4 linked regions of the Homo sapiens genome follow. The protein of the gene in region 2 interacts with the protein of the main gene of each other region in a pairwise test. Each region holds a gene or a part of one and is shown on either strand. Other genes may lie near its edges. The genes, in order: HLCS, ANKRD29, CABP2 and CRACR2A.

Region 1 (7,268 bases), on a different chromosome or scaffold from region 2:
GGCAGGAGAATCATTTGAACCCGGGAGGCAGAAGTTGCGGGGAGCCGAGATCGTGCCATTGCACTCTAGCCTGGGCAACAAGAGCAAAACTCCATCTCAAAAAAAAAGTATGTCCACTTTATCCAAGCATAGAATGTGTACATTAAACAGACAAAAAGCTTGATACTGCCAATTTGTATAAACTGTCTTTGGTTAAACTTATCAATTGATTGTAGGGCATTCAATTATAAACACACATATTCAGTATTCATGCATTTGATTTTAAGTGTATAACATATGAGAACACGCCAGGCTTGGTGGCTCACACCTGTAATCCCAGCACTTTGGGAGGCCAAGGTGGGCGGATCACCTGAGGTCAGGAGTTTGAGACCAGCCTGGCCAACACTTTGGTGAAACCCTGTCTCTACTAAAAATACAAAAATTAGCCAGGCGTGGTGGCTCATGCCTGTAATCCCAGCTACTCAGGACGCCAAAGGAGGAGAATCACTTGAACCTGGGAGGTGGAGATTGCAGTGAGCGGAGATCGCGCCACTGCACTCCAGCCTGGGTGACAGAATGAGATCCATCTCAACATATGGGCATGAGATTCAGGTGTGTCCTTATTTCAGCCCAAGTAGACTGAGGTATCCCTCAAAAGTAGACCCAAGCAGACTGAGATATCCACCAAATCATCAACCTGATCATATTTTAAATCTCAAAATAACAGTAGCCAACCACAAATAAATGGTCAAGCTTTCCACCTGTAGACCTTCAACATCACAGCTTAAACCCAACAACTATTAAATTTACTATTTCAGGTCAAGCTGCTATGCTAAACAGTCTCATTTCCTAATAAGAAAAAGATACGAACTAGAATAGGAACTGTGATTTAAAGGCTACAGGGATGCAGAGCATGGCCATCCCATCTAGTCTGGAAAACTAGGAAATGACGCAGCAATATCTAACCAAATCTGTAGGCAAAGCTTACTGTGCAGAGTGACAGAGCAGAGTTACAGAATCCATGAAAGCACCAGGCCACTCCTACTCCGGCCTGCACAGGTAGGCAAGGGCTGAAAATCACTAGTTATGGTTAGTGTAGTTAACAGAAGGCCAGCGGAGTCATGAAAATGTTCAAAAGTAAAACTGTCCAAGAAAATCAGACATTCCCATCTCCATGTTTTTATATGTCCAAAATTTCTATTCTGACTTAAATCCTAAATGTAATTGATCCAATTTGGAAACTACTACAAAAAGCTCACCCCTCAATTTTTTGCCATTTTATTGAGTTATCTTTCTCAATCAGGTTAATTCCCAACGCTCTAAGCCATACATTGTATGTAATGCATGAACTTCTTCCCCTTTTGTCTGGGTAGTGTCAGTTATGTGGAGGTGGTACTAGTTATTTGCATAACTAGTACCTTGGGGGACCTGAGAAAACAGTCATTCATATTCAGTGTGACATAATACATATATGGTACTAACAAGAAAGAGTATTTTTTATTTGCTAGTGGCACAATTTCAACCCATATCTAAGCACAGCCTCCAGGCAATGTTCAAACCTGAGATAAGATTCAATTCCCCACAGGGGCTTTACGGTGTGACATATGCAGAAAACGTCATTTTAGTGCTAAAAGTGAGGCAATATTCCAGAAAACAGAGGAAAGGGACAAGAAACAGATTAAAAGCAAAACACGTTTAAATATTAATGAGAACAATGCTACCGATGTCCATGAAATTTTGTGCAGTACTGCACTGTGAAGCTAAGCCCATTTCCAAAAACAGCTGAATGGAAAGATCTATTGTTCCCTTTACAGCAAGGCAGCAGACTTTTTACAGAGATTAATTGACTGGCCCAAGTCACAAGGTAGGTGACAGAGTGGGCTGAACACGTAACCACCATCCTAAGCACTGGGTCAAAAAAAACAAAGGCTGACTGTCAACTGAAATTTAAAAGACGCAAAGACCATCAGTCGGGTGCCCAAGTTGGTGAATGATGCAACCAACTGACAGAAGATGGAGAGGGAAAAGGGCAGTTTTTGTAAATTTGGGGACATCTGACAAAAAGCTGATGACACAGGTGGGAGTTTTTTGTTTGGGATTTTTTTTTTTTTTTCTTAAGACAGGGTCTTGCTTTGTCACCCAGACTGGAGTGCAATGGCTCAATCATAGCTCACTGTAGCTTCAAACTCCGGGGCTCAAGTGAACCTCCCGGGATCAAGTGACCCTCCCGCCTCACCCTCCAGAGTAGCTGGGACTACAGGCGCGTGCCACCACGCCGACCTAAGTGTTTTTTTTGTTTTGTTTTTTGTAGAGAGGGGTCTAGCTATGTTGCCCAGGCTGGTCTCCATCTCCTGGGCTCAAAGCTGTCCTTCCTCCTAGGCCTCCCAGAGTGCAGGGATTACAGGCATAAGCCACCGCTCCCGGCCCGCCACAGCTGTCTCTCCTGGTTCACGGTCACCCAAACGCCGGCTCGAAGTGTGGGAGAGGAGGTTGGGGGCGACCCCAGGTGGGCACTGCTGGCGTCCGGCTGTCAATCCACAGCTCACGTCCTCACAGGTGCGCGCCTAGAGTCACGCGTCCAGCACCGCCCGGCTGGCCGGGAAGAGGCGACCGGGTCCGTGGTCCGAGTCCCGCACCTCCGGCCTCTCTCTGGGCCCCGGGGCAACAGCCCCTCCCGGGCCGCACAGGCCGCACTGAGGGCGCCACTCCGGGGCTCCCGAACTCCCGGGCTCCCGGCGGGGACGAGGCGCAGGGACGGGGGCACTTCCGGCTCGCGGGGCCCGGGTCGCCCGCCCGCCCGACCCGCCCACCTGGCTGTCGCTGACGCAGAAGACGCGGCCGCCACGGCTCAGGCACACGCGGGCGCCCGGGGGCTGCGCGGCCGCGCCGCAGAAGGTGAAGGAACAGCGCGAGGCACGCAGCCGCCGCACCGTGGCGCGCACGAGCTCAGCCGGCCGGCGACCCCAGCGCGCCCACAGGTACAGGTAGCACAGCGTGATGAGCATGGCCGCGCCGCCGGCAGGGCGAGCCCGCCTTGCCCGCCCGCCCCAGCGCCCCAGGCCCGGCCCCGCCCCGGCCGGAAGGGCCGCGCCGCCCCCCCGGGCCAGGCGGCGCGGGGGTGGGGACGGCGGGGGAGGCGGGGACCCGGAAGGTGACGCGGGCAACTGGAGGCTGCGGCGGGAGGGGCGGGGGGGGGTGAGGCCGCGCCCGGCTGTGTGATGGGGAGCTCCGGAGGCCGCGCCCAGGGCTGGTGGCGGCGGCGAGGGGCAGCGCTGGGGCGGGGGGTGTGCACCGGGGTCAGGGGACGCCGGGGCTGCACCCGGAGAGGGGGCTCGAGGGAGTGGAGGCCGGGGTGCGGGGCCGCGCCAGGGCTGAGGAGTGGGATGGGTATGTTGTGGATGCGGGGGAGGGGAGGCTCCAGTGGCTGCCCGACCTGTTTAAGCCAAGTCCGGCCTCCCTTCCTTGGAGGGGTGGGAGGCGGATTGAGGAGGGGGCTCTGCCTATGTTCATAGCTGCCAAGGCCAACCTTTACTAACCAGCAGCACACCGGGAGTCCCAGAGCGCTCCACAGCCGCTACCCAGTCGACTTGGGAAAATAAGATAAGGCCGTTTTTATTAAATTATACTAAGCCTTCATGCAAAAGATTTTAAGGTCAATCACATACATTCACGGGATGCAATAATGTTTTTTTAAATAAGGACAGGAAACAGAAATTGAAGACAGATAAGCACCAAGAAGGCTGCCTCTAAAAAGGCTGTGCCAGGAAGGCTCCCTATGGTGTTCTTGCTACATGTGGGTCAACAGTTTGACTGTAAGCATCCTAACACCAGTGGGAAAAGGAAAACATCACCATGATTTGGTGTTCTTGTCTCCAAGGGAAGCATAATTAGTCCTGACACAGAGGCTTCTCCCATAGAACCTCATTTCTTTAAAAGGCATTATGTAAAGAACGTGTTCTGAACAGCTGCGAAGCACAGCAAAGAATTCCATCCAGTGGCTTCCTATTCTGGCCCTCGCTGAAAATAGGTGGCAAGATGCAGCAAAAGCAATCATGTACACCACGTCCATGTCTTAATCTAAGGATAGTTTTTGTTTGTTTGTTTTTGAGACAGTCTCTCTCTGTCACCCAGGCTGGAGTGCAGTGGTGCAATCTCGGCTCACTGCAAGCTCTGCCTCCTGGGTTCAAGCGATTCTCCTGCCTCAGCCTCCCGAGTAGCTGGGATTACAGGTGCCCGTCACCATGCCTGGCTAACTTTTGTATTTTTAGTAGAGACAGGGTTTCACCACGTTGGCCAGGGTGGTCTCGAACTCCTGACCTCAGGTGATCCACCCGCCTCTGCCTCCCAAAGTGCTGGGATTACAGGCGTGAACCACCGCGCCCAGCTAGGATAGATTTTTTTTAAGAGACAAGGTTTCGTTCTGTCGCCCAGGCTGGAGTGCCGTGGCATAATCACAGCTCTCTGCAGCTTCGAACTCTGAGCTGAAGTGATCTTCCTGGCCACCATGCCCAGCTAATTTTTTAGAAATTATTTTTCATAGAGACAGGGTCTCGCTGTGTCGCCCAGGCTGGTCTCAAACTCCTGGTCTCGAGCAGTCAAACTCCTGCCTGGATCTCCCAAAGTGCTGGGATTACAAGTTTGAGCCATGGCGCCTAGCCATAAAGATAGATTTTTAAAGTACCTTGGCCATTTGTTCATCTGCTTTAATATAGCTGCATAGAACACCCACTCCCAGAACTTCAGACTTTTGGTTAGATAACATAGTATATTTTCCCCCTTGCATATAGCGATAGATTTTTAAAAGAGAGAAAATCCAAAAAGAAATAACTGGGCTTAAAAGCAAGCATCTCTGTGGACCAGAAATAGAAGAAAAACAAAGTGATAAACAGGACTAAAGCCATATCCTACACTTCTCTACAGGACAGTGGCAGCCGGAAAGTGGGTTCCTGCATGGTAACAAGACCTTAAAATTGTGTCACTGGAGAAGGACGTGCAGTTCCCGCTGAGGAGAGACTTGGCCACTCCAGGACAACACAGGACTACAAGTCAGGAATTTGAAGATGAAAAGTGCTCAACAGTGATAAATCCTAAATGTTTCACTGAACAACCTTTCAGATAGCCTTCTTGAAGTTTGCTGAATTATGGCTATAAGGACCACTCCCCACCCCTGCTAGGTATGGAGAGGTCATCTCCTCTATCTGAAGGTGACCAACATCTCCAGTTTTTCCAAATTCCCTAAGGGTTTTGAGACCACACCTTCCCACAGGTACTCTAACTCCACCTGGCCAATAGGAATTTTCTAGGTTTACCCTTAGGTGTTTCGAGATATGGTCTCAGAATACATCATGGGAAAATTACATTTTGGGGTCAATCCTGTATACCAATTCTAGGTTAAAAGCATGGGGACCACCATGGTTCAACATGAGCTGACCCTTGCATTGAAGAGTACTGATACCATTCATGCCTGGGGAAGGAATAGAGGGAGGAAGATATGAAGGGCACAGTGAGAAGTGAAACAGTCACATAACAAGCTCTGTTTATGATCCCGCCCTAAAATGATTTCATTTTGCAAAGGTCAAGGATAGAGTTGAGTTTCATCACCCCTATATAACAAAGGAATAGGGGAAGGATGCAAAAATAATACACCAAGGGATATTAATGTGTATGCACCTGATCCTCATCCTGTAGTCCCTCACTGCTCAAAGTGTGGTCCTTAGAGCAGCAGCAGCAGCATCACTTGGAAGCTCGCAAGAAAAGCGGAATCCTAGGCCCCACCCAACCCCAAATCAGCGTCTGCATTTTGACAAAATCCCAGGAGACTCACAAACACATTAAAGTTAGAGAAGCACTGCTAACATCTTCCTCTGTCATTCCCTGGGTCTGGGCTACTCTAGACTCTAATAAGACATTTCCAAAATGATGTGGAAAATAAGACCACAGACTAGGGATTTTTTTTTTTTTTTTTAGATGAAGTCTCACTTGCCCAGGTTGGAGTGCAGCGCGATCTCAGCTCACTGCAACGTCCGCCTCCCAAGTTCAAGTGATTCTCCTGCCTCAGCCTCCCGAGTAGCTGGGATTACAAGCACATGCCACCACACCTGGCTAATTTGTGTATTTTTAGTAGAGATGGGGTTTCACCATGTTGGCCAGGCTGGTCTCAAACTCCTAACCTCAGGTGATCGTCCCACCTCAGCCTCCCAACGTGCTGGGATTACAGGCGTGAGCCACCGCGCCCGGTCAGACTAGGGATTTAGAAGCAAGACTTTGTCATTTATAAGAACACTGCAGAAAGGAACAAGAATGACCCAGCTAGCCACTGAAGACCACCTCTGAAACCCATCAACATGACCGGCTTTCTATAGGAAAAGTCTCCACAGACTCAAAAAGTCTCTAGTTTCTTGCCCTTAGGAAGGCATGCCCTGGGAATAATAGTTTGGGGACAAGAGAGAGTAGAGTGTTTACTGTCCTATCCCCCATTAAATACATGGCAGAACTTCCCCAGGGAAAGCCTATCATACTGACATTAACTCAGTACCTGTTTGAACTTGGAGAGCATTCAGAATTCTCATCAGTCAAATGGCCAGAGCTGAGAAGGATAGCTTGTTTTGTTTGTTTTTGAGACAGGGTCTTGCTATGTCACCCAGGCTGGAGGGCAGTGGTGCAATCCCGACTCACTGCAGCCTCGACCTCGTGGGCTCAAGCAATCCTCCCTCCTCAGTTTCCCAAAGTGTTGGGATTACAGGCATGAGCCACCACACCTGGCTAATTTTTGTATTTTTTGTAGAGACAAGGTTTTACCCTGTTGCCCAGGCTGGTTTCCAACTCCTGAGCTCAAGCCATCTGCCCACCTTAGCCTCCCAAAGTTGTGGGATTACAGGCACATGCCACCACACCTGGCTAATTTTTATATTTTTTTGTAGAGACAGGATTTTGCCATGTTGCCCAGGCTTGTCTCGAACTCCTGGATTCAAGCAATCTACCCGCCTCGGCCTCCCAAAGTACCGGGATTACAAGCGTGAGCCACCGTGCCCAGCCTGGGATACTTTCTAAGAACCAAGGAACTATGTAGAAAATCTTCGCCGGGCACAGTGGCTCACGCCTATAATCCCAGCACTTTGGGAGGCCAAGATGGGCAGATCACGAGGTCAGGAGATCGAGACCATCCTGGCTAACACAGTGAAACCCCGTCTCTATTAAAAAATACAAAAAAGTTAGCCAGGCGTGGTGGCGGGCGCCTGTAATCCCAGCTACTGAGGAGGCTGAGGCAGGAGAATGGCGTGAACCCAGGA
Region 2 (5,514 bases):
GGCACTCTTTTCCTCTGAGTAGGTGTCTCAGTGTGGGATTTATGAAGAGACGTAGCTTTCTTGTGGCGGCAGAGGGTGGATGGAGCAGATGGAAGCCAGGATGTTCCTGTAAATCTCCATATTCCTGATGTTACTGCTGCAAATTATTGTCTCCTACACCAACAGTTCTGCAAAACCACCAGCTACTTCACAAGAGAAAGTTATTGCAAAGGACTAAAGGGCCAGGAGCATCATAAATAATACAAATCAGAAAATTTTCTATTTTCAGCATCTTAAATAACTGTCCCAAGAATTCTTTTCTGAATGAAAACTTTTTGGAATCATTTCATTCTCTACAGCAGAGATAATGAAATCATAGGTCCATTACTAAAATAAAGTTTAAATATCTATTTAGGGTCCCAAATATCAATATATTTACAGAGTTGAATTATTCACCCTAAAATTCCATGCTACTAAAAATCACATAGCAATAACTCTTGATTAAAAACAAAAAGAAAAAAGCAGCAAAGGCAAATGGGGTAGTATATTAACTTTATTTTGAATTATTATATAACATGGAATATGTCATCAAAGAATGAATTAATGAAAAACGTTTGTAGTTCAGTTAAGCAGATGATTTGCATAGGAATTGCTAGTTTTAAGTCTTAGGATGCGGAGCTAACTGAATTGTCAATTAGATTAACATAGAATAATCATTTACATGTGTGCAAACTAAAATGCAATTTTGAAAATAACACACCTTTCCGTACAGTCTTTGGTAGGTGATGATTCATTTTCCCTGCTATGGGTAATCTCATCTAGATCAAATGTGATCCTTCTAAGCTAGACACCTCTTCCCTACAGTAAGAAGGCCTCCATATTGTTCAAGCTACTGGCTTCAATTTTATGGCTCTAATATTGTTCAAGAACATTACCCACTTAAAACTATTGATGTAATAGGCCAATTACATGTTTTAGTGAAAAACAGTAAGTTTGTGATTCATCCCATTTTGGCTTTTGGAACTTTGTTATCAGTACCCATAACGTTTTGCTTTGTATCAGTGATTAGCAACTATTTTTGCCATAAGGGCTAACTAAGGGGAAAATACAAAGCATTTAATGCCATATTATTTTCCTCTTCAAAATGAATATAGCTTTTTGAAATTCGCACAGGAGAAAATGTATATTTGTACAAATTTGCTGAATAAAAGAATGTCAATGAGGAAATGGCATTGATTTTAGCCACCAAAATGTTTATATCTGGATGTTTTAGCAACAGAGAGCTTTCTAATATTTTATCCTAGAATCAGGTTGCAGGCTTTTTGTATAGCTGGTCAGGCTGTAGGCACCTGTGGGGCCTGTGAGTTGCTCATTTGCTTGAGACATTTATCAAAATATGCTGATTTTTGTTGCATTAATTGTTATAAATTTTAAGAGAATATCTTCTAATTTTGAAGATTATATTCTATTATTTACTGAATTAAAGATAATCCTTTTAGTAACTCTGAAAGTTGGTTAAACAAAAATTCTTTTGGGATTACAACATTTTCCTCTAAAAGTGTCTTTACATAGACACTGACTGAAAACCAGAGCAGAACATGAAGAAATAAGCTAAAGATGTGTTTAAATAGCAGAAATACCATTGCGTTTATTTTGGTAGATTACAGAAAGAAGGTTTTATTTTTGTATGTGCAGTTAGGCACTGACTGAGGCATTTAGACACCATTAATTATAAAGTGCATTGAATATAAGTTTTGATCCCTTTCAAAGGAATAATTCAATAAACCTCATATTTCATTCTTGGAATCAGTCAACTCAAAAACATGCATAGATGAAGACTTACTAAGTGCTAATAACAGTCTTTTATTATTTATATTCCTGCAATAGTAATAGCAACATACTGTACTTGCATATATCACATTTTATCCAAGGACCTCAAAGTCATTCTATCAAGCAGCACGGTGTTGGAAACTCAAGATTCCACAGCATGTTAGGTATACTTACTTATAGAATAGGAAATAGATTCCCAACAATAGAGCCAAAATAAAAGACCAAAGAGACAAGCCTATATATTTCTCGTGGTTTATAAGTTTCTGAATTTCCAAATTTGCCACTGGTATTTTAACCTACCTACAATGTTGACTCTACGTAAAATTGATTTTTACATGTCAGGAATAAGATGAGGATCAACGAACAAATGCACAGTCTGTCTTTTCTATAGTTCAATAGTCCATCTTTGAATAGCACATAATGGAATGTCAGAAGTGGTTTTTTAATAATGTATGTTTACACTTCATTGATTTATAACAATCATGGCTATGGTTCTTGGGTAGAGGAGAATGTTTTATACTGGAATGACATACATATGTAGGTAAAATATGATAGATCTATATATTTTAGCACATCTACATTTAACACAAAAGCAAAAGTGCCTCAATCCATTGAAGGTCAGCTTTTCAGTCTTTTAAAGGAACAAAGCATTCTGTCTCCTTGCTTAGTACTGAGAACCCTGTCCACCTTAGAGTTTAACTGACAGGTCCAAGTTAGCATTGTTGAAAATGAGTTTCTGTGGAATCTGTGAACATGCCAGGCCCCCCGGGAGATGAGTTACAGGACACCATGAGAAGTCCATGGTGAAGGGGCAAGAGGGTCCCTGAGCTGTTTGGTTCTTGACTTCGTGCACAGAGCGTAGCTCTTCTTTGTCAGGGACCCACAGGATGGGCATTCTGGGCATCTTTTTTTTTCATAAAAGAATTTCCAACACTGCTTGAAATGCAATTTCTTTTTGGACAATGTGGTTAAGCTTTCTATCTTTCTGTCAAATATGGAGCTAAGTTAGCTCTTTCTGGGACCTTCTTTACTTCTCAGGAGACGCAATATACGTTCATTTTTGGTTAGTTCTGCCGGAAGTTCATTGGCCTGAAAGAAGAGAAGATGGGCATTAGTGAATCCCCATAGCTGGTGTGGTTTTAGGGACTCCAAAGAGGGGCATTTGACCCACTCTTTCTCCTTCACTAATGAAAAAAATCCACACTGGACTCACTCTTTTATATAAAGGTATTACAAATCTTCTTTAAATGTATAAATATTACTTGTTATATCCTTATCTCATTCTTAGAGACATTTTCCAGCCAGATCCCTTACTAGACTGTAATCTCTTAGGGGGAAGGGTCCAGATCTAATTAATCATTGTATCCTTATCTCCAGCACAATGCCCAGCATGTCTAAAATGTGCTCAATAAGTACCGGTCAAATTAAATGTTATACCTTATATGTATTTTATTATTATTATTTTTTGAGACAGGGTCTTGCTCTGTCACCCAGGCTGGAGTGCAGTGTTGCAATCATGGCTCACTGCAGCGTTGACCTCCCCAGCTCAAATGATCCTCCCACCTCAGCCTCCCGAGTAGCTGGGACCACAGATGTGCACCACTATGCTCGGCTAATTTCCAGAGATGGGGTTTGCCATGTTGCCCCAGCTGGTCTTGAACTCCTCGGTTTAAGTGATCCTTCTGCCTCAGCTTCCAAAGTGTTGGGATTACAGGCATCAGCCACCGTGCCCAGCCTACCTTATATTTATTAATGTATGACATGAGGTAGTCTGCCCACTAAGGACTTGGGACTGAGTCAGGACTCAGCACAGGTGTCTTTTTTTTTGTTTTTTGAGATGGAGTCTCACTTTGTCACCCAGGCTGGAGTGCAGTGGTGTGACCTCGGCTCACTGCAATCTCTGCCTCCTGGGTTCAAGCAATTCTCCTGCCTCAGCCTCCCGAGTGGCTGGGACTACAGGCATGTGCCACCATGCTCGGCTGAATTTTGTATTTTTAGTAGAGATGGGGTTTCGCCATTTAGCCAGGCTGGTCTTGAACTCCTGACCTCAAGTGATCCGCCCGCCTCCGCCTCCCAAGGTGCTGGGATTACAGGTGTGAGCCACCGCGCCCGGGCCAGATATCTTTTGATGAGAAGGCAGAGATAGGAAACCTCCAGAGCATAAGAGACACCCGGGAAAGAAGAGCATTGGTGGCTAACACCTTCCACCTTACTCAGTATCACTCGAAGGCCTTTCTTTTCACATTGCTGCTGAGATACATCCATTAGGCATCTAGTGAACCAGTCCCTACCATTGACAACAGGTGTGATGTGGAAGTGGCTCTCAAACCTGTTGGTTTCAGGACCCTTTATACTCTCAAAAATTACTGAAGAGTCTAACAAATTTTGTTTTTAACTTATTAAAAATGAAAGCTGAGGGCTATGCGCAGTGGCTCACACCTGTAATGCTAGCACTTTGAGAGGCTGAGGTGAGAGGACCACTTGAGCTCAGGAGTTGGAGACCAGCCTGGGCAACATAGTGAAACCTCATCTCTATTATTTAGAAAGAAAATATTTTCAAAAAGAAAAAAAAAAGAAATTAAAACTGAGAAAATTTTAAAAATATATTTATTAATTCACTAAAAATAATAAATCCAAGTTAATATAGTTATGAAAAATTAAATTTTCAAAAACAAGTAAAAATTCTCAGAAGAGTAGCACTGCTCAACAGCTTTACATATTTCTTTCATGTGTAGCTTAACAGAATACAATTGGATTCTCATATCTCCATCTGTATCCTGTCTATTGTGATATGCTGTTTTGGTAGAAGGATATAAAGAAAATTAAGCTTCACACAGATATGTAGCTGGAAAAGGAAGGAGTATTTTAACAGTCTTTTTGGATTGCTGTGGATATTATTCTCTGATGCCACATCAATACTCAACAAATGGTAGTTTCTTAAAGGTTAAATGCAATGTGGGATTTGAAACCATACCAATGAACTTTAAAACCCACAGGTTTATCTATTTATAGTTGGATCTTTTACCTATGCATGGTTTGTAACATGCACTGCTCATTTGGAAAATATCAGTTCACTGAGTTTGTAGAATGTTGGCACATTTCATTGTGCAATATCAAAAACTCACATTCTGGCTGGGCGTGGTGGCTCACGCCTGTAATCCCAGCACTTTGGGAGGCCAAGGCAAGTGGATCACCTGAGGTCACAAGTTTAAGACCAGCCTGGCCAATATGGCAAAAACCTGTCTCCACTAAAAATACAAAAATTAGCTGGGCGTGGTGGCACATGCCTGTAATCCCAGCTACTCAGGAGGCTGAGGCAGGAGAATCCCTTGAACCTGGGAGGCGGAGGTTGCAGTGAGCTGAGATCACGCCACTGCACTCCAGCCTGAGTGATAGTGAGAGAGACTCCATCTCACAAACAAACAAACAAAAAAACTGATCCATCAGAAAAGCCTTTAAGTTTTGGGAAGCTGTTAAGGTCATAGTGGTAGATACCTTGTTCTTTCAAGTAAAAATAGTGATCTATGAAAAAAGTGGCAGGTTCACTTTGCAATTCAAACAACTGCACAGGGACTGTGGAGGCTAATGCAACTCCATCTTGGATGCTAATCTGCCATGTTTACTTCTTTTTTTTTTTTTTAAGACGGAGTCTCACTCTGTTGCCCAGGCTGGAGTGCAGTGGTGCCATCTCGGCTCACTGCAACC
Region 3 (7,668 bases), on a different chromosome or scaffold from region 2:
CGGGTGGATCACCTGAGGTCAGGAGTTCGAGACCAGCCTGACTAACATGGTGAAACCCCGTCTCCACTAAAAATACAAAAATTAGCTGGGCATGGTGGCAGGTGCCTGTAATCCCAGCTACTCAGGAGGCTGAGGCAGGAGAATTGCTTGAACCCAGGAGGCAGATGTTGCAGTGAGCCGAGATAGCGCCATTGTCACTCCTGGGTGACAGAAAAAGACCCCATCTAAACAAAAAACAAAAAACAAAAAACAAACAAACAAAAAAACCAAAAAACTTCTTGGAACTTTCCTTAATTTTCCTGAACTCTTCGGTTGGGTTCAAGTCCTGGCTCCAAGGAACTTGCTGTGTGACCTTAGACAAGTCACTTAGCCATTCAGTTGCCTCATCTGCAGAATGAGGATCACAGTCCTTGCTGTGCCCACCTCCTAGAAGCTGGTGAGATTCTCCAGAGGCAGAGAGCTTGCCTTGAGAATGACCAAGGTCATGGGCTCTGGGGACAGCCTGTGCAGTCACCTGTGTACCTGGACTGCTTGGCTTCATGGGCCCAGCGGGGGCATCTGGAGGACTGGGGATGGGGATGGGTCCGAGGCACATACTGATTTGTTGTGAGATCTCGATGAGCTCCATCTCGGTGGGCATGTAGCCCAGGGTCCGCATGCAGGCACCCAGCTCCCGGCAGCCAATGTAGCCGTCCCGGTCTCGGTCAAACTCCTGGAAGGCGACCTGCAGCTCTGCCAGGCAGGGTGGGGTCAGTCCTTCCCCCACAACCCCCTGATCCTGGCCTGGACCCGCCTACCCTTCTCCCTTGGTCCAATCATCCCTCCTTCTGAACATCAGATTCTCTTTGCTGCCTCGGGGCCTTTGCACGTGCTGTTCCTGTTATTTGTTCTTTCAGCAAATATTTGAGGAGCATCTACTATGTGCCAAGCTCTGCTCTAGGCACTGGGGATACAGCAGTGAAATTTTTCAAAAAGGAAGAAAGAAAGAAAGTGGGGGAAACAAATTCTGACCTCTTGGAGATTTCCTCACTCTTCCCCTTCCTCTTTGGTCCTATGTCACCTACTAAAGGAAGCCATCCCTCTACATGTGGCCTCCCCCGGCCCATTTGTCCCTTTCCTGGAGAGCACATGCACCATTTGTACTTGTAGCTGACTAATTGACGTTGGTCTCCAGAGGGCACGGGCCATATCTGTCTAGCTGGCCATGTTTCCCAGTGCTCAGCCAGGGCCAGGCACACAGTGGGCACCCAGGAAGTGTCAGCTGAATGAACAAATATAAAAGGGGCCCTGTCACCTGCCTGGTGAGTGAGACCAAGGAATGACAGCTGGGTGGGGGTCTGTCATCCCCTCCCTGCTCAGTCTTGTCCCCATTTCCCTAAACTGGTCCCCTGCAGCCTTCTTGCTCCCACTTCCTCCTGGAAACACTGAGGCCCCCACCCGATGCCCCCCCAACCCTGTGTCCCCACCCCATGCCCCCCATGCCACCTCCCCTTCAGGGAACCAGTTCCTTCTCCAACCCTTTACCTTCAATCTCCTCGGGCCGCAGCTCCCGGTCCTGAAGGGCACAGAGGGGTTAGGAATTCCCTGCTCCTACTGATGACTGTGCCCTTCCTTCTTGCTTCCCGGGGCTCCCCACCCAGCCCCACAATCCAACACGCACACGCAGGGCCTGTGTCTGTCTGATTGCTCGGCCCTGGTTCCCACCCCATCCTACTCACTGGCCTGGGTAACCGGGTGCCCCCTTCCCTGCTTCTGGCCTAGGTCACTCCTTGGGCCGTCCTCACCTACTCCATCACCCTCTTCTGGGGCAGGGGGCTCCCTTTGCTGGTGGTGGATCTGGGGTTTGGGCAGAACCTCAGACTTGGTCCCGCCAGCCTCAATGTCACTGTTGATCTCTCTTCCATTTCTAGAGTCATTGCTCTCTCCCCTCTCTGCACCCCCACCCCAGATCTGTGTACCTTTGCTCTGATGTCCCCACTCAATCCTCTTCCCCCTAGCTCCAGGAGAGGCAAAGCGAGGGGCAAGGGTAGGTGGGCTGGAGTGCGAGGGGCAAGGGCAGGTGAGCTGGTGGGAGAGGGGCAAGGGCAGGCAGGCTGGCGGGCGGGTGGCCGTACATACGAGTTGGGTGGCGGCAATGCTGGGCCGCAGGAAGATGCAGGCAGGCCCCACCAGGCTGTTGAGCACCGAGTAGCCCTGGACGCCTGGCGCGGGGTCCCCCTGCTCCTTGGGGCTGGAGCTGGGGCTGGGGCAGGAGCCCCTTGGTGGGGAGCCGAGCCACTGCAAGGGGTCCTGCAGCAGAGCCGGCCGTGAGCTGGGGCAGTGGCCGCTGAGCTCTGGGCCTGATAGCCCTCCCCACTCCTCTCACCAGCTGCTCCTGTCTTTGGAGCCCGGCATGGGACAGTAGGGAAGGGGCTGGGGGGTAGAGAGAGGACCCTCACCCGTGAACTCTTTAGGCAGAAAGGGTCAATCCTCTAACTGTTCTGTTGGGCAAACTGAGGACCAGAAAAGGCAAGAGACTTGGCCAAGGCCACTGAGAAAGCCAGCGGCAGAGAGGGACCTTGTGCCCAGCTCTGTCTCCTAGATGGAGGCTGGCTAGCAGAGAGCGGGGACCTGCAGCCGGGATGGGGCAGCTGGACGGGCAGCTGGGGGACCTGGAGCCTGGCAGGGGAGACCCAGAGGTCGGTGGGAGCCAAGATCAGGATGGCCAGAGGCTGTGGCTTCCAGGAAAAAAATCTCCACCTGGGGCAGTGGGCAGCCCCCAACCCCGCCCGGCCCTCGGAGGGCTCTGCCCATCCCATCTGACCCTCAGGGTCCATTCCAGCCTCCTGGCCTGGGTTTCTCCCCTGACCCCTCCTACCTTAGGGCCCCGGCGCCAGGGCCGCTTGGCACAGTTCCCCATGGGCCCTGAACCATGCCAGGCCTGGAACCCCGGGGGTGGCCCGGGTGGGCCTCGGCGGATGCTGCTGCCTGAGGACTCCTGCCAGCCCCCAGCTGCTCCCGATGAGAGCCTGGGAGTACTGCCGGGGATTTTCCTGGGGTTTTGTGGGGAAGATCGGGGGCGGGTGGGCAGGCGGGGGACTTGGGCCTGGGGCTTGGGTCCTAATCCGGGATTATCTTTGAGCGTCTCCGCTGCTGAGGGGAGCCACTTGGGCCCAAGGCCCCCTGGAGAGCACAGCCTCCCCAGACTGCCTCCTGAGGGTCTTCCAGACGCCCCTTCTCCAGCACCCTCCCCCAACCCCTGCCTCTAATCTCTCCCAATCAGGGGAGATTTAATGTCTTCAGAAGCAGGGCCTGGGTCCCAGGAGGAGGAAGGCAGGCGTGCAGTGTGCCAGGGTGGGCTGGGCCCTCCGAATGGCACAGATTCCGGTTGGTATGGACACGCGGGCCTTCCCACACAGCCTCCCAGAAAGAGGCAGCCACTTGGCTCAGCCCAGGAAGCCCCTGCCTCTCCCTGCCAGGACCCCAGCTGGGCCCTGGGCTCCTCACCTCGGGGTAGCCCCAATTGCTTGCACTTGGCTCCCCCTGCCTGGACTGGTGCCCCGCCCTTGGATGAGGAGCAGAAGGGAACCGCCTATGTGCTGTGGGCAGTGACAGGGCTCGGTGAGGGTGGAGATTGGGAAGGGAAGCCACCCCGGCCCTGCCGACCTCAGAGAGTCTCCCATTGGACTCTGCCTCCTGGTCCCCTCCCTGGACTAAGTCCTGGGTCTGTCCTCCGGGGCCCCCAGTTGGGGTGTGGGGTCCCTGCTCTTTGTTCCTGGTCCCCTCATACCCCTGCCCGCATTACCTGCCCGTAGGCTGCCTGCACCTGGGCCTCGAGCTCCCGGAGAAGCTCTCGTCGCCGGGTGGCTGCTGGGCTGCCAGGGGCCTGGCTGGTTCCTGGAGTGCCCTCAGAGGGGCTGGGGTCCCCCGTTGGGAGGCTGCCCTCTGCTGGGCCCTGGGGCTGGGCCATGGAGATGAGGGCTTGGTACCTCCTCCTGGCTGAGGGACGCTGCTCCGTCCGGCCTCCCCAGTCCTGCGGGAGAGTGGTCTTGTGGGCAGCCACAGGTGTGGCCTGGGTCCCTGCTACTCTTCTTTCTGTCCCTTCCTCCATAAACTGGGAGAGCCCCGTGTCCCCAGAGTCTTGTATCCTCCCTAGCTCCCCGTGGCCCCTCGTGTGGCCCTGTCAGCCTGGTGAAGCCCCTCATGCTGGTCACAGACTGTGCCCGGGGCTCCACCTGATCATCCTTGTGGCCCCAGTGGTCGGCCCTCCTGCCTGCCTTTGGCCTCCTCCCCCGCAGTGTTCTGCCTGCATCTCTCTGGCTCACGCGCACCTGATGCCCCACACACCTCCTTGCTCAGTTTCCATCTCACCGCCTGCCCCTCTGTGCCCCCTCTGCCTCTGTGTCTGTTTTGCCTGCAGCCCCGTCTCCATCCCCTCTGACTCGCCGCCATCTCTGTCAGTCTGGATCCAGTGGTGTCTCTGCCGTCTCTGACCCACTCAGCCCATCTCTCTGCTGGCTCCTTCCCTCTGTTGCTGCAAGGTCCTTTCTTGCATTGGTCTTTCTGTCTGTCCTTCCTTGCTCTTCCTATTCTCCCCACCATCCCGCTCCCAGGAGAGCTCCAGAATTCTGGAAAGGCCTTCCCCATCTCCCCAGCCCAGAGCCCTAGGGTCCGTCTGTGCTGCCCACCTCCCTGCCTCCCTCCCTCCTCCCCAGGGTCCCTCTGTGCTGCCCCCTCCTTCCCTCCCTCCTCCCCAGGGTCCCTCTGTGCTAGCCCCCTCCTTCCCTCCCTCCTCCCCAGGGTCCCTCTGTGCTAGCCCCCTCTCCTCCCCAGGGTCCCTCTGCATTGCCCACCTCCCTGCGTTCTGCCAGGACCTCCACCTGGTCCTGCTGACCTTCAACCTCTTGCTTCTCAAGGAAAAGGGGTGGAGGTGGGCCGGGCAGCCCCTGCTGGCCTCTCAGGCTTCCTTGCCATGACCCCAGCCCACTCCCCACCCAGCTGCCCGCTCTTCAACTCCCAGAATGAGGTCATCATCCTGCCCCGGCTCCATTCCAGGCCCCTCATGATTTATTCATCTGTCCCCCACACTGGCCTTTGTCTAAGGGAACCAGATCCCACTAGGTGCTGCCACCTGAGCTGGTGGCTCTGGCCTCTCTCAGCCACATGCGGCCATCTATTCATGTATTCCCTCAGCAAACAGCTGAGGCTGGCTGGGCCAGCTTCTGGGGCTATGTGACAGACCCCATCTGTCCAGAGAAGCCCACTCTCAGGCATGTCTAACCAGGAAAAGAGCCACCAGACAGTCTCCAAGTACTTGGGGTCCTTGGCCCAGGCATCAGGGAGGCTTCATGGAGGAGGTGAGGGGATAAGGCAATGCTGCAGGCATTGCCTATCAATGTTTAACCTGTGCCTGGCCCTGGGAGAGAGCCAGGGTCCCTGGCACGGATCAGCCTTGAACTTGGAGTGCCCCAGGAGCTGGAACCTGGCAGGTGGGTTGGATGGAGGCCCTTGGGAGGGAGGAAGGGGCTAGTGGCCTCTGGAGAGGGTATAGGTGGCAGGAGGTCAGAGAAAATTTTTGAGAGGCTGAATCTGCAGCAAACGTTTGTCCGGCCCCTGCTCTGTACCTTCCTGGGTGCTGGAACTAGTCCCTACATCCTGGAACCTTTCACCTGCTGGGAGATGCCTATTCAGCAAACCAGAATGACAGTGGCCAGGGAAGTGCAGGAAGGGCCAAGGTTCTCAGGAGGGAGGACTTGGCCGGGCGTGGTGGCTCACGCCTGTAATCCCAACACCATGGGAGGCCAAGGCAGGCGCATCATTTGAGGTCAGGAATTTGAGATCATCCTGGCCAACATGGCAAAACCCCATCTCTACTAAAAATACAAAAATTAGCTGGCGTGGTGGCGCATGCCTGTAATACCAGCTACTCGGGAGGCTGGGGTATGAGAATCACTTGAACCTGGGAGGTGGAGGTTGCAGTGAGCCGAGATCGCCCCACTGCACTCCAGCCTGGGTGACAGACTGAGACTCTGTCTTGAAAGAAAGAAAGAAAAAAAAAAAAAAGAGGGAGGGCCTTGCTTGATGGGGTTGAGGAACTGACATGCTAGCCAAGAGCAGAGGATGATGGGAATGGCTGAGCAAAGGGAGGGGGTGGCCTCACAGACAGAGGAAAGCCTCCACATCTGAGGACAGGCCGGGGTTGAGAAGTGAGTGGAAAGGCTGGTTGTGATCATTCCCATTGCTTCAGCCTTCAGTGTCCTTCAGTCCCACCTCTGCACATGGAGAGCAGGAGCGGCCTGGTTTCCCAGGCGGTAACGTCTCTGAAAACATTCATCGGAGACAGAAATTCTCCTCTGCAAGACCACAGAAAGGGCCGGCAGGCCTAGGTTCCCCCATGCACACACCGTGTCACCCTGGGAAAGGTATGTCACCTCTTTGAGCCTCAGTTTCGTCATCTGAAAAGTGGAGGTTGACCTAGCATCTGCCTCCCAGTGCCATTGTGGAAATTAGATGACAGGACCTGGCAGGTTCCTGGCACATAGGAAGGTGCAGAACGTGGTGGGCACCACACGTGATGAATGGTCTAAAGAACCATCTTTGAAAGTGGAAAATGGTGAGAAATGTATGTCCCAAAGTATAATCCAAAACAGTGGGGTCTGTAACCACTCAGAGTATAGGGGGTAAAAAAGTTTTCAGTCAGGGAGCAAAGGCCTTGTGTCTAAGTGGAGGAGAAAGCCTGGCTTGGAGATCCCCCTGCTTGTGTTCAATCAGCAGCATCCTGGAGCTCTCATCTTGGTGCCCTCAACTTGCCCAGCCTGACTTAGCCAAGCTGGGGTCCTGGCTCCAGTGTCCAGGATGGGTGGATCAGGGGTTTGACTAATGGGTAGACAGAGGGAAGGATGGGTAGAAGGATGGTTGGTTGGGTAAAATGGGTGGTTGGATGGATGGGTGGATAATTTGATGAACTGGTGTTTAAATGGACAGATGGATGGATAGATGAATGGATGGACCGGAGGATGGATAGTTGGGTTAGTAGATGAGAAGTTGGATGGATGGACAGGTGAATGGCTGGCTGGCTGGAAGGATGGGTAGGTGATTTGATGGGCTGGTGGTGCAATGATTGGTAAATGGATGGATGGATGATTGCATAGATAGTTGGTTGGGTAGAGGGTTGGATAGATGGATGGGTGAATGGAAGATGGATGTATAGACAGGTGGCCGACGATCATATGGGTAAATGGGTAGTTGGATGAATAGGTGGACAAATGGATAGATGAATGTCTTGATGGACTGGCTATTGAATATTTGATTGATGGATTGATGGATGATTGGGTAGATGAGGGTTTAGATGGATAGAGAGATAGATGGAAGTGGATAGATGGCTGGGAGGATGGACTGCTGGTGAAGGTCGTGTGTGTGTGTGTGTGTGTGTGTATGTGTGTTTTGAGACAGGATCTCACTCTGTCACCCAGGCTGGAGTGCAGTGGTACAATCGTGGCTCATGGCTTACTACAGCCTTGACCTCCTGGGCTCAAGCAATCTTTCTCTCAGACTTCTGAGTAGCTGGCACTATAGGCATGTGGCACCATGCCCAGCCATTTTATTTATTTATTGCAGAGATGACATCTTGTTATGCTTCCCAGGCTAGTCTTGAATTCCTGGCCTCAAGCAATCCTCCTGCCTTGGCCT
Region 4 (7,028 bases), on a different chromosome or scaffold from region 2:
AAGGTAGGCTGTGCCCTTACCTTACACAGGGCTTCTTTTCCAACAGGCTGCCCTCGGGGGGATGTGGGGGTGAGTTTCAAGGGTGGGGCCTCCGGGATTTGTCCCTGTACCCCCTGGTCAGAGACCTCTTCCTCTTCTGAGCATTTGCTCAGGGGTTGCTCAAAGCCACCATCCAGGAGCTGGGGCAGGGGGTCTTCTTCAACGGAGATGATTCTGCGGAGCGGCCGGGGGTACGGACCCCCAGGCCCTGGCTCCCCGGTTCCTGGCTCCTCTTCTGTTAGGGGATATCCACTCAGGCCCAGGGAGCTTCTCCTTGGGATGCCAAACACCTCCTCCTCCTCCTCTGACTGGCTACTGGGGCGGGGAAGAGAGAAGAGTTGGGAGGATTTCACAAAATATTTCAATACGGGCTGCATAACAGCTTTTGTGACGAACAGATACCCAAGGAGCATCACACCTTTGGACAAGAGCAGTCCGGGAGAGGGAAAAACAAACCAGCCAGCATTCTGCAGCTCATTCATTCAACACGCTTCCACTAAGTGCCTGCTGCCACTGCTGTGGCAGATGATGACAAAGATGATGATGATGATGACCAAGTATTAAGTAAAGATGCCATTTACAGATGGACATAATCCCTGTCCTCACAGAATACTTGATTTAGTGGGGGACTAAAGCAATAATGACACAAATAAATACATCCTTTACAAATTGTGAGACTGCTGTGAAGGAGAAGGAAAGGTTGTGAAGAAACGTGTCTCAGACTCAGATTTTAATAAAGCGCCCCCGATTAACATTAGCAGATGACCTTGGCTCTGCCCCCAGCGCCAGCCCTTACTCACTGTGTGTCCTTAGGTAGGACACTCCAACTCTTCAGACCTTGCTGTAAAACGTGGCCCATCTGCTCTATTCCCAAATAAGTCAATGCATAAAAACAGACATGTTTGCAAAACATCCTCAGCAGTGTGAGGGGTGCTGTTGCTTTGGGAGGGCCCCCCACCTCCAGACATAGCAGGTCTGCTGGCTCACAGGCAGCTTCCCCCTAGACAAGAGGCTTTGGGTCAGAAGAAAGCCAGGCAGAGCATCTCCATCCACCTCTCCTTCCTCTCCCTTTCTCTTCCCCTTTCTGTATCCCTAGAAGTCACAATCAGGAGTAAGTGGCTCAGAGGCCTAAATATCTTCTAGAAGCATTTGAGCACTAAGGGCAAGGAGAAGCTGTAGGCAGTGCAGGGAATCGGGGAACTGGATGTGGGGGTCAATGCAGGGTCTGTATTTTCAGTAGGTTTTGAGAGCAAAGGCCTCACAGAAATTGTCTTAAAGGAAGTTTGACAGGGAGGACCTTAAGTCCAGAATTGAAACACACACACACACACACACGCATGCAAGCATGCACACAGACTAGAAAAGAAAATGGAATGGGGATGAAGCAGTGGGGTGATAGAGCCAAAGGAGAAAGGAACTAAATGAAGGACACAGAATATGCAGAACAGAGAAATACACTTTCTTTTGCTCCCTAATTTAAAATATGTATTACTCTTAAAGATCAACAGTAGAAAGGAAAAAGAAAAAAAAATGCAGGTATCACCATCCTGAAATTAACTGCGATTCTGCAAGATAAATTACGATATAGTGCTTGCTTGAAGAAAGGGTGAATTAGTTTGGATTCCTTGATATGAAAAATAAAGGATTTGCAGCAATTAAAGCACCTTTCCTTTGACTTATAAAAACAGTTTTAAAAAAGCCAAATGTCTTCTTTCCAGCAAACTTCCTATATATTGCATCAAGCTTATTAAGTGCTTATTTGTTTAAGAACACAATTGGTATTCCCATCTACTTTTACTCTGCTTACACACACACAAGTGACTATTTGTATGTACACATGAGCAACTACGCATACACACACACAGAGCATGTTTTTTCAAAGGCTTTGCAACCAGAAAAGAAATAGTCACTTAAACAGGCATTAAAACAAAGCATTTCTTGGAAAAAGCTTTCTGTCTGGGAAATTCTCAAGCACTACTGCCATTCTGTAATACCTGCATCACGGCATGACTGAGTTCATTTTTGGTTTTACCACCAAGTGCTCTCTGCCATCCGTAGGGACAGCAGCTACTTTTGTCAAAGTCTGCATTAGAATTCAGGGCTCACAATTTGTTGCTTACTTGATTATTGTCTGCTTCTTCCACTCAACCAGAAATTCAATGACACAGAGGTAGGTCCATTTGGCTCACTACTGTATATCCAGCAAAGAGCACAGGACCTCACACATAGTAGACACTCAATAAATATTTATTAAGTGAGCATTTAATAATGGAGATTAATGGTAGGACCTCATGTCTAATTTATTTTTGGAGGCTTTACAGAACTCAAAAGAATGTCTGGTACACAGTAGGTAATCAGTAAACGTCTGCTGAATCAATCAATCAATCCATTCCATTCTGAGGAACCAACAGGCCAACCACTATTGCAGAGATTTGGCTCCCAAATTGTATCTCATTATTCAGCTATTTAGAACAAGAATTCATGATGATCAGGCCCAAAGGTTTTACTGATGAGCTGATTTACATCTCCAGAGTCACTTCCGCTTTGCATATCTTTTTCATTTCATGCTTGCAGTCTTCAAGGTCTCTCTGGGTCTGATACTGAAGAGTCGGGATGCCTCTATCTCTCTGTGGCCATCTATGTGGACACAGCACATGCCAAAATGAAGAGTGGGCAGGGGACTGGTTTGTCTCTCAATGAGCAATGAGCCAACCCTTGGGTACTCAAGCTCAATCATGTGCTGCCCAAGAGCAACAAAATGTGTTATGTTTGAGTTAATTAAATATAGGTCATGGAAACGATCTGTCAAGCACAAGCCCTAGCCTTGTCTGTAAAAGGAGTTAACTATTGGAGATTCTATTTGACAGTTTAATTAACCTTCATAGCCAATATAGTCATGTTCCTAAAAAACCAAGTGCATTGGCCGGGCACGGTGGCTCACACCTGTAATCCTAGCACTTTGGGAGGCCGAGGCGGGCAGATCACGAGGGCAGGAGTTCAAGACCAGCCTGGCCAACATGGAGAAATCCCATCTTTACTAAAAATACAAAAATTAGATGGGCGTGGTGGCGCACCTCTGTAATCCCAGCTACTTGGGAGGCTGAGGCAGGAGAATCGCTTGAACCTGGGAGGCAAAGGTTGCAGTGAGCCGAGATTGCACCACTGCACTCCAGCCTGGGCAACAAAGCAAGACTCTGTCTCAAAAAACAACAACAACAAAAACCCCGAAACCAAGTGCATCCATTCTGCTCAGCAGACAGCAGTGTAGTGCTACCCAGCTACACACTCCCTCCCTCTCCCTTGACCCCTCTCCTCTGCTGCTCTGCAGTCCCTCTCTGCAAACACACAGTAGGGTGGGGCAGCCTCAGAAGACAATGGTCTGTCCTGTGGGGTTTGCTCTGCACATTCCCCCTCTGGCTTAGATGTCAGAACAGGGAGGGGCATGTGTTCCAAGATTTGAGGGGAGTGAGTGCAGCTGACCTCAGTTTCCGCACCTCTCAAGGGGTCAGCAGGCACTGAGTATGGGCCCAGAGCCAGCTCCCAATGAGCCTGAGAGGAATGAAGGGATGAGCAAGTGGAGATGACTTACCTCCTAAGAATCCCTCTGCTGTCCACATATTTGCCTATCACAGAGCCAGATCTCTTTTTCCAACTTGCCCTGGAAGCAGCTGTGTTTGCCTTGGCTGCCTTATTTTTCTGTAGAAACACAAAATGTCCTCAGATCCATGCCTATTTGCTCCGATGTTTGAACAGAAAAGGGCTCATGGTTCCCACCTCATAGACTAGGCTCTACACAAAACTCTGAAAGGAGTAGGCAGTGTTCTGGTCTCCCTGTTAGCGTCTAGCCACTCTTCCCTTTTGCCATCATCCCCTACCAGAATCCCTCCATCTCCTTTCCAGTCAGCTAATCAAATGAACAAGTGCACAGTTTACAGCCTGGGGCCCATCATGCTATTCACAGGAGCACTGATGATTTGTAAAAGGAAAAGAAGAGATAAGTGTTTAATGCATATTTTCTATACATATTTCTAATGCATCTAGAAAATATACATTAAACACTTATCTCTTCTGAAAAAATATATCTATATTTTTGAAACAGGGTCTTGCTCTGTCTTCCAGGTCAGAGTGCAATGGCATGATCACAGCGCACTGCAGCCTCAAACTCCTGCACTCAAGCAATCCTCTAGCCTCAGCCTCCTGGGTAGCTAGGATTATAGGCGCCCTACCATGCCTGGCTAATTTTCTCATTTTTTGTGGAGATGGACTCTTGCTATGTTGTCCAGGCTGGTCTTGAATTCTTGGCCTTAAGTGATCCTCCTGTCTCACTCTCCCAAAGTATTGGGATTACAGGAGTGAGCCACCACGCCTGGTCAGATAGAAAAAAGAAAAAATATTTACAGGCATAAAAAACTCTGTGAATCTTTAATTCACACTCTTCTGTCTGGCTCCAATCCCTTTTTATTTCTAAAGCCTCAGATGTAATGAGAAAGTAACTAGCCAGGAGGATCAATTAACTCAGTGTTCTGTCCTGAGCTAGCATAAGGTAGTTCAGCTCTTTGGTGGAAGTAGGCTGGGTGTAGATAAACTACTAACATCTGTAACACAGGACCTGGGTGGAGCAGGGGTTTACAACCCCCTTTGCCTATGCTCCCTGACAGATGTCTTCCAGGAGATGAGGCGGGGGAGTTAGACTGCAGGAAATCTCTCTCGTTAATTAGCCATCCCATGATTCCCAGTGATCCTTAATGAGAGGAGGGGCTGCAATGCTCCCAGAGCCCCTGAAGGTATGGCTATGCTGATTCTAAATCAATCTTCAATTCTTATTGAATTTATCCCTTTCTTTGATTCCCCACAGAAGTTCTTAATTCCATACCCCTTTCAAAGCAGAATGAGTTTGGCAGGTAAAGGGAAGGGAGGTGAAGGGATTCGGGTGACATTTGGTTGGAAGTTTTAAAATAAATTCAGTGTTACTTCTAAAACAATTATAACCATTATCATCATCAAACAAACATGTGTAGGCTCAAGTCTTGCTCTAATAGTACACACAGGTGGGTGGCAGAGATGTTTGCTGCCAGTCAGCAATGGAAAAGAAACTGTGGCGTAATGCAGTCCCTCAGGGATTTGCAATTATAAAGCAGGTCAGATCTAATTTAGGGCAAACCAATTGCCTTCTGCTGACCATATCTAGGTCACCGTTCAGCTAAGGGTGCAATCCACATCATCCCCTTTCCAAGAATCTTTCTCAAAGATTCCTGTTGTATGGAGGGGGGATGGGAATTCACTTTCCTCGCGTGACAGCGGAGGTCATGGTCCAAGGCAGTAAATGACTTGCCCAGGGACCCACATGAAATTCATAGGATGGTAACCCTGATAATTAGGAAGTCACATCAATCAATTTGGCCTTCATTTTTCTTCCCTTCAAAGCACCCAGTGGCTCCTGTCTAAAGGGAAAGATGAGTAAGAACATGGAATCCTAGGTTTTGGCCAATGTGGTCCACAGTGAAGACCTTCAAATAAATATAGGATTTCATGTCGTTTAGGAAAGTGTGTGTGTGTATATATATATATGTACATACATATACACACACATATACACATACATACATATATATGCACACAGACTATATATATATAGTTTATATATATATTTATATAATATATATTATATATATATTTATATTATATATAAATATATATAATATATATTATATATTTATATTATATATATTATATATATTTATATTAATATATAATATATATTATATATATTTATATTATATATATATATATAAACTGCAGAATGCACTTTGGGGTTCACAGCTGGGAATTTCATCCGTTAATACTAGAGGTGGAGAGGGCAGTCCAGATGACCTCAAAGTGCTTAGCAGTTTTGTGATTCTACGACTCATATATATATATATATATGCACACACTACATATATATAGAGAGAGAGACATGGTACTCAGGTATGGAAGAGTAGGGGTCCCTATAGGATAGAGAAAAATTGTTCATAAAATCAAGTATGAAAACAGTGAAATACACATTTCTAATGTGGTCTATGACAGTATAAAATGCAAAATTTTCATCGAGATAAAAATTTAAATGAAGAAGAACGGTGTGAGCATTTTGGTTTAGAAGTGATAATGACATTTCAACTGCGCCATCTCATGGATAGAACTATCATTTCTGCATCCAAGAAATGTGCGACCCTCCCAAATATTTCAGTCTTGTTGTGCCAAGAGGAAACTGCATTACTCTGTGGAAAATTAACACGTTGTTACCCAGTAGGCCACCCTGAATTTTTATTATTTGCAAAACGTTTTCATGCCGTCATCCTGCCAAATAGATCCCGAGTGTCAGGACATTGCTGGGCCAGTCTCGACATGGATCTGGCTGTCCAGTGGACCACAGCCCTTGGTCCCCCACAGGTAAGGGAGAACTGGCCAATTACCTGAAAACATATGTCCCGTTCATCCCGAAGGTGCTTGTTCCTTTCCCTGTGGATGGTAAAGGGGAATCTATTCAAACATGGAGTTTGCAGTTGACAGATCCAACGGCAGCCAATTTGCTATTCAGATGGGTGCAGGGGAAGGTGTGGTATGGAAGACAGGGGAGTCTGTGGAATCTCCTTCCATAGGGATGTGATTAATGGTAGAGGATAGTTTTTGTGTACAGATAGGTACACACAGATGTGGGGGATAGACTGAATGCCCTTGAGACACCCGTGGCCCATCAGGATTATGCATGGCCTCTCTTATTATTAGGGGCACTGCCTACAGAGGGGACCTCAGCATTCCAGCTCCACCTGGGAGCTTCCTGTTGGGCTCCCTCTTTCTTTCTCTCTGTGCACCATTCATTCATTCATTCACTCATGCATGCATGCACGCATTCACTCAAATGTCTCCTGAGCACCCACTGCATGTCAGGCACTCTTCTAGCCATCAAGGTCACACCAATGACCAAAACAAAAAGTTCCTGCCTCACAGAA

The links.
Region 1: the proteins of ANKRD29 (region 2) and HLCS interact in binary tests that used the Homo sapiens proteins (3 or more experiments, as listed by UniProt).
Region 3: the proteins of ANKRD29 (region 2) and CABP2 interact in binary tests that used the Homo sapiens proteins (3 or more experiments, as listed by UniProt).
Region 4: the proteins of ANKRD29 (region 2) and CRACR2A interact in binary tests that used the Homo sapiens proteins (3 or more experiments, as listed by UniProt).

Annotation. Positions count from the first base shown.
Region 1 is NC_000021.9:36,963,655-36,970,922, forward strand, and holds the start of HLCS (biotin--protein ligase), read right to left. Parts: upstream 3,016-7,268; 5' UTR 2,985-3,015; coding exon 2,790-2,984; intron 2,739-2,789; exon of another isoform or gene 1-2,738. UniProt on the Homo sapiens protein: Biotin--protein ligase catalyzing the biotinylation of the 4 biotin-dependent carboxylases acetyl-CoA-carboxylase, pyruvate carboxylase, propionyl-CoA carboxylase, and methylcrotonyl-CoA carboxylase.
Region 2 is NC_000018.10:23,598,412-23,603,925, forward strand, and holds the end of ANKRD29 (ankyrin repeat domain-containing protein 29), read right to left. Parts: intron 2,899-5,514; coding exon 2,815-2,898; 3' UTR 515-2,814; downstream 1-514.
Region 3 is NC_000011.10:67,520,428-67,528,095, forward strand, and holds the start of CABP2 (calcium-binding protein 2), read right to left. Parts: upstream 3,020-7,668; 5' UTR 2,914-3,019; coding exon of another isoform or gene 2,900-2,913; coding exon 2,858-2,899; intron 2,290-2,857; coding exon 2,119-2,289; coding exon of another isoform or gene 2,115-2,118; intron 1,556-2,114; coding exon 1,525-1,555; intron 733-1,524; coding exon 598-732; intron 1-597.
Region 4 is NC_000012.12:3,638,104-3,645,131, forward strand, and holds part of CRACR2A (EF-hand calcium-binding domain-containing protein 4B), read right to left. Parts: intron 6,538-7,028; coding exon 6,492-6,537; intron 3,736-6,491; coding exon 3,629-3,735; intron 2,677-3,628; coding exon of another isoform or gene 2,559-2,676; exon of another isoform or gene 2,266-2,558; intron 355-2,265; coding exon of another isoform or gene 352-354; coding exon 21-351; intron 1-20.